Linked DNA regions of Homo sapiens. The protein of the gene in region 1 interacts with the protein of each later gene in a pairwise test. Each region holds a gene or a part of one and is shown on either strand. Other genes may lie near its edges.

What was found. Proteins that work in one complex are often made in the same cells at the same time.
Region 2: the proteins of SMAD2 (region 1) and SKIL interact in binary tests that used the Homo sapiens proteins (3 or more experiments, as listed by UniProt).

The regions. Positions count from the first base shown.
Region 1 is NC_000018.10:47,847,160-47,850,659, reverse strand, and holds part of SMAD2 (mothers against decapentaplegic homolog 2), read left to right. Parts: intron 1-1,972; coding exon 1,973-2,185; intron 2,186-3,500. UniProt on the Homo sapiens protein: Receptor-regulated SMAD (R-SMAD) that is an intracellular signal transducer and transcriptional modulator activated by TGF-beta (transforming growth factor) and activin type 1 receptor kinases.
Region 2 is NC_000003.12:170,364,215-170,367,714, reverse strand, and holds part of SKIL (ski-like protein), read right to left. Parts: intron 1-3,500. UniProt on the Homo sapiens protein: May have regulatory role in cell division or differentiation in response to extracellular signals.

The DNA.
Region 1 (3,500 bases):
AATATATATTATACATAATATATATAATATATATATAATATATAATATATATTATACATAATATATATAATATATATATAATATATAATATATATTATACATAATATATATTATATATATAACATATATTATACATAATATATATTATATATATAACATATATTATACATAATATATAATATATAATATATATTATGTATAATATATAATATATATTATACATAATATATATAATATATTATATATATTATACATAATATATAATATATATTATATAATATATATAATATATATTATACATATTATGTATAATATATATAACATATATTATACATAATATGTATATAACATACATAATATATATTATACATAATATATATAATATATAATATATATTATACATAATATATATAATATATAATATATAATATATATTATACATATATATAATAATATATATATACTATATATAATATATATATGAGAGTGTGCACATATATGTACAAATGTGTATGTGTATGGTCCCTTCATAACCATGAGTTCAGCATCTGCAGATTCAACCAACTGCAGATTGAAAATAATCGGGAAAAAATGAAAATAACAATACGACAGTAAAAACTAATACAAATTGTATTTATTTTTATTTATTTTTTGAGACAGAGTCTTGCTCTGTCGCCCAGGCTAGAGTGCAGTGGCGCAATCTCGGCTCACTGCAACCTCTGCCTCCTGGGTTCAAGCAATTCTCTGCCTCAGCCTCCTGAGTAGCTGGGACTACAGGTGCATGCCACCACACCCAGCTAATTTTTGTATTTTTAGTAGAGATGGGGTTTCACTATGTTGCCCAGGCTGGTCTCAAACTCCTGGCCTCAAACGAATCACCCACCTTGACCTCCTAAAGTGCTGGGATTACAGGCGTGAGCCATCGTGCTGGGCCCAAATTTTAAAATACAGTATAACAAATATTTGTATAGCATTTATATTATTAGGTATTATAAGTAATCTAGAGATTATTTAAAGTATACAGGATGACGTGAATTTAAGTTACATGGAAATACTACACCCTTTTATGTCAGGGACTTGAACATCTAAGGGTTTTTAGTTAGGGGGAGCCGGTCCTAGAACCAATCCCCTGTAAATGCCAAGGGATGACTATATATATATATATATATATACATACATTTCTGTATTACTATTATTATTTTTGCCCTCATTTTACCCTATTTCACAATTTCTCTTCGGTTGTTACATGTTTGGAATTTATTCTACAAAATTGTGAGGTTTTTTTCTTTTGCAGTATTCCTTATGATATGTTTTAGTCAAACTGCAGAAGCTAAATATATAGTTTTCCAGTGAAATAAGTAGTCTTTTGACTCTATGGTCTGTTTCTACTTGCATGATCTTTGTGTGTTACTGCTTTCTGGTTCTTATGTATGAGTGGGTTTTCTCTTTTTGTAGCTAGGGTATCTCACCAAGAGTTTGATGTTAAAATAGACAAATGTCAAAAATATGTCATATTTTGTATCCTTTTATTATTACTGTTTTTCTTTGTGTGGCTTTTGACTCATTAATCTTTGCTCTGGCTTTATCTTACCCCACTTTAGCTTTTTTATGTGCTTTAGAAATGCACCAAGTATGGCAAGTTGACTGACTTTGCCTATGATTGTTTTGTATTTGAACAGGAGCTAGACTAAAACTACTGGTAAAACAAAGAATCCAACATAAAGTGATTTAATGACATGGGAGAAATTTGAAAAAATCTGGTATGATCTATGAAACTGGAGTTTTGTGTGAAAAATACTGAAAATCTGGTATCATCTGTGGAAACCGATACAGATACTATGTCTACTTCCTGAGCTTTTGCCAGTGCAGGCTGGCATAGAGCATGTAAAGATGATTATATTAAATCTATTTTTGGCTTGAATTGTTCACGCATTTCTTCCTTTTATTATTTTTTTATTTTTTTCTTTTTCAGATTTACAGCCAGTTACTTACTCAGAACCTGCATTTTGGTGTTCGATAGCATATTATGAATTAAATCAGAGGGTTGGAGAAACCTTCCATGCATCACAGCCCTCACTCACTGTAGATGGCTTTACAGACCCATCAAATTCAGAGAGGTTCTGCTTAGGTTTACTCTCCAATGTTAACCGAAATGCCACGGTAGAAATGACAAGAAGGCATATAGGTATGTTTTATTTTCCTTGTTGTGAAAAATAAATGCTGTATACTCATAATGTAGGCATTGCATGGTGTGCCACATCAAGAGCTTGTGTGCAGTAAAACCAGCTTTCTCTCTGGTGGTTTAAGTGCCGACACATTTAAGTGCACAGGCTTCACTGCTTCTAATAGATCCTGGTGATGCTTCAGCTGCAAACTCTTCAACTTTTATTTGGCACCCTTGGTACTGGAAAGTTCTTCAATAAATATGTGTTAAGATAAGTTTAATTTGCTGAGTCTCTACCAGTCATAAAATTGCCATGTTCAGATTTGGGGGTTAATACTTTTTTATAAATCATGTTTTTTTGTTTTGTTTTGTTTTTGTTTTTTTTCAGTTTCTTTATATAGCTCCCAGGTTTTTTCCCCCTTTGGTGAGTTTATATATTAAATGAAATCTGCTTGCTGTTCATCTGAAATGAGATATCTAAAACAAGAACTGCATTTAATATAGTTCAAAATATAATTCAGGGACATCTCAAAATGTGGTCTGGGGACTTCTGGTAGTCCCAGAAACCCTTTCAGCTAGTTTGTGAGGTCAAAGCTATTTTCATAGTAGTACTGAGATGCTGTTTGCCATTTCTACTCTCATACTCTCATGACTGTACAGTGGAGTATTCCAGAGCCTACATGCATATGATTTTGCAAGAGATGAAATGTAGATTTGATAATGAGACTCCAATTCTGTTACACTAGACATGAATGTTGAAATGTTGCCACTCTATTTTTTTTTTTTTTTTTTTTTGCTTTGGAAATATAGTTGTTTTTCATAGACAAAAATGGTGAAATGTTGCCACTCTATTTTTTTTTTTTTTGCTTTGGAAATACAGTTGTTTTTTATAAACATTGTTAATATGTAATGGATTTGATTTTTAAATGAATTTTTTAAATCTCAGTTTTTATATCTAATATGGTCATTTTCCATAATATTCACATAAACAAAAGCTCTTTGGGGTCCTCAGTATTTCCTTAACGATGAAGTGAAAAAGTGTGAGAACCATTCATAATTGAACATCATTCTCATCACCTTAAAGTAACTTCTTTTAACAGTAGTTTGCTTCTGTTTTTTTTCTAATTAACCATTACCTCCTGTGAGAAGTAATGCTGGTTATCAAAGTGTGATTTTGATACTGCAAAATGATAGTGACTAGAAGATCTATTACTTGGTTCCAAGTGGAAGTTCTCAAATCTTGCTTGATGTATAAATTTGGATAATCTTATTAAGATACCCAGTGTCGCTGTAGGTGCTTTAACTAAAATAGTTTTTTGTTTTTGTGACTTAATTG
Region 2 (3,500 bases), on another chromosome or scaffold:
GGTGGATTGCCTGAGATCAGGAGTTCGAGACCAGCCTGGCCAACATAGTGAAACCCCCATCTCTACTAAAAATACAAAAAATTAGCTGGGTGTGGTGGCAGGCACCTGTAATCCCAGCTACTAGGGACACTGAGGCAGGAGAATTGCTTGAACCTGGGAGGCGGAAGTTGCAGTGAGCCAAGATTGCGCCATTGCACTCCAGCCTGGGCAACAAGGGCGAAACTCCATCTCAATTTAAAAAAAAAAAAAAAGGGTATATATAGTTCTTAACTTAGTAAAGTGGAGACTGTCAGCCACATGCTACAATAGGGAAGAATCGGCCAGGCGCAGTGGCTCACGCCTGTAATCCTAGCACTTTGGGAGGATGACGACGTCAGGAGATCGAGACCATCCTGGCTAACACGGTGAAACCCCGTCTCTACTAAAAAAATAGAAAAAATTAGCCAGGCGTGGTGATGGGTACCTGTAGTCCCAGCTACTCAGGGGGCTGAGGCAGGAGAATGGCGTGAACCTGGGAGGTGGAGTTTGCAGTGAGCTGACATCGCGCCACTGCACTCCAGCCTGGTCAACAGAGCGAGACTCTCGTCTCAAAAAAAACAAACAAACAAACAAAAAAAGTGAAGAATCACCTACAACAAATGACCACTTCCAATATGTTTGAAAATAATCTTAAGTAAACATTACTCTTCAAATTTTATTTACAAATGATTAATTTGCCTGTTGATCTTTTTTTCATACAAACGTAATATTCAACAAAATTAGAATTAGATCAAATTTATTTTAATTTTCTATTTTTGTTTACATATATTTGATCTACTTCTGATTTTGCTGAATATCCACTGAAGATGTGAAAAAGAATCAGGAATGTGATGTTTGCATGTATTTATACAGTTTAAAGTAAAATAATGATTATTCCAATAAAAAACACAAAAAGCTCGTATCAGGTAAGTAACTTGACAACATTCTGTAGAACAACATAGGCAGATCTAAAATCAAGTATGTGTGTGTGTGTGTGTGTCTGTGTGTGTGTGTGTGTGTGTGTTTTGAGACAGAGTTTCACTCTGTCACCCAGGATGAAGGGCAGTGTGAACTCGGCTCACTGAAACCTCCACCTCCTGGGTTCAAGCCTGCCTCAGCCTCCCAAGTAGCTGGGATTACAGGCGTGTGTCACCATCCCCTGCTAACTTTTGTATTTTCAGTAGAGATGGCGTTTCACCATATTGGCCAGGCTGGTCCCGAACCCCTGACCTCAGGTGATCCACCCAACTCAGCCTCCCAAAGTGCTGGGATTACAGGCATGAGCCACCGCGCCTGGCCTAAAATCAAGTATATTTCTTATGGCGACTTGAGTAAGAAAGAGTTATTAGCTATATTTAATTAAGTTGTCTCATTTCAAATTATTTATAATTTACAAGATACTACAACTTATTAACATTAAAATGTATTAATATATTACATATTTTATAATTGTAAAATAATTAAGTTGTTTCATTTCGAACAACTTACTGAGTTTCAGGACTTTTTTTAATCCAAAAGCAATACTTTGATTACATAAACTATATACGCATGTCAAATCATGTCAGTATTCACACCAAACATCAGGTCCTTTACATAACACGTTAATATATTTAGTACAGTCTTAAAAAAAAAAAAAAAAAAGGCCAGGCGCAATGGCTCATGCCTGTAATCCCAGCACTTTGGGAGGCCGAGGCAGGTGGATCATCTGAGGTCAGGAGTTCAAGATCAGCCTGGCCAGCATGGTGAAACCCCGTCTGGACTAAAAATAAAAAAATTAGCTGGGTATGGTGGCAGACGCCTGTAATTGCAGCTACTTGGGAGGCTGAGGCAGGAGAATCGCTTGAATCCAGGAGGCGGAGGTTGCAGTGAGCCAAGATCGCGCCATTGCACTCCAGCCTGGGCGCAAGAGCGAAACTCCATCTCAAAAAAAAAAAAAAAAAAAAAGCCTAGTTTGACTTTTTAAAATGAGCTCCCTCTGGGTCAATTTGGCTTGTTTGGCAACCAACTCAATGACTCACAGAAGAAAATAAAAACTGTTCCTCAGTCAAGGACTATCTCATTCTCAGTTAAATACCTTAGTATTTAAATTTATATGCAGGTTAAAACAGAGTTTGAGAACCATCATAGAGGCTGAATATCCCTTATCAGAAATGCTTGGGACCAAAAGTATTTTGAATTTCTGATTTTTTCAGATTCTGGAATATGTGCACGATATGGCAGTTGAGCATCCCAAATCCAAAAATCAAAATCTGAAATACTCCAATGAGCATTTCCTGTGAGTGCCATGTCAGCATTCAAAAAGTTTTGGCCTTTAGAGCATTTCAGATTTTGGATTTGGGATGCTCAACCTGTACTAAGGTAAATTGATAAGAAAAGTTAATGTTTCTCAAAATTCAGTTTCTGCTACTAACATGTGCTTCAGGGGCAAATAGTGAAAAATTACTAAACTTCGAGTTAGAAGCCCTGTATTCAACTCCTGATTCTGGTTATACAACCAGGAGCATGTGACTCATCTAAGAGGTGGAAATATTGTCATTCACCTTCCTCACAGACCCTAAAAAATAAGTGTACTTCACAATGTTCTGAGTACGTTTTTAAAACGTGAAGTGGTAAGCATAATAAAACAACCACTCAAGTACGTATTAAATATGAACCAAAGAAAAGAATCTTTCTTAAAGTATGGGTGTTTGAAATTTTCTTAAATTCCTTTAAATTTCTCAAATTCACATAAAATTACAAGCAATATCAAAATACACCACAAACACTAATTCAAATACTGCAAAATATAACACAGCAAAAAGATCAGAAAGAAACTCACACCTTCCTAAAATCGAAAATGTATTCAAATCAGTGAATTCTGGGACAAAAAGGGATTACATCCCAGACGAAGGATGGTTTCAGTGTTAACCAAACCTCAGCACATTGTTTCAGTTAAGTAAATTAATCCATCATCTTTTTTTTTTTAAACCTTTATCATGGTTCTCAGATGTTTTTCACATAAACACAGAGCAAGAATATTAGGAAAAGTAGTTTATCCAAAATACACTTATGTCAGACTAATAATTAGACTGGGGCGGGCCAGGCGCCATGGCTCATGCCTGTAATCCCAGCAATTGAGAGGACGAGGAGGTCGGATCACCTCAGGTCAGGAGTTAAGACCAGCCGGCTAGGCTGTAAAATCCCATCTCTACTAAAAATACAAAAAACAAGCTAGGCATGGTGGTGGGCACCTGTAACCCCGGCTACTTGGGAGGCTGAGACAGGAGAATCACTTGAATCTGGGAGGTGGAGATTGCAGTGAACTGAGATCGCGCCATTGTACTCCAGCCTGGGCAATAAGAGCGAAACTCTGTCTCAAAAAAAAAAAAAAAAAAAAAAAAAAAAAGACGGGAGCAACAATATCTGGCAAATGTGGCCTCCAACAGACATGTAAGAGTAGACCACCACTGGGCATGGTGGCTCACGCCTGTAATCCTAGCATT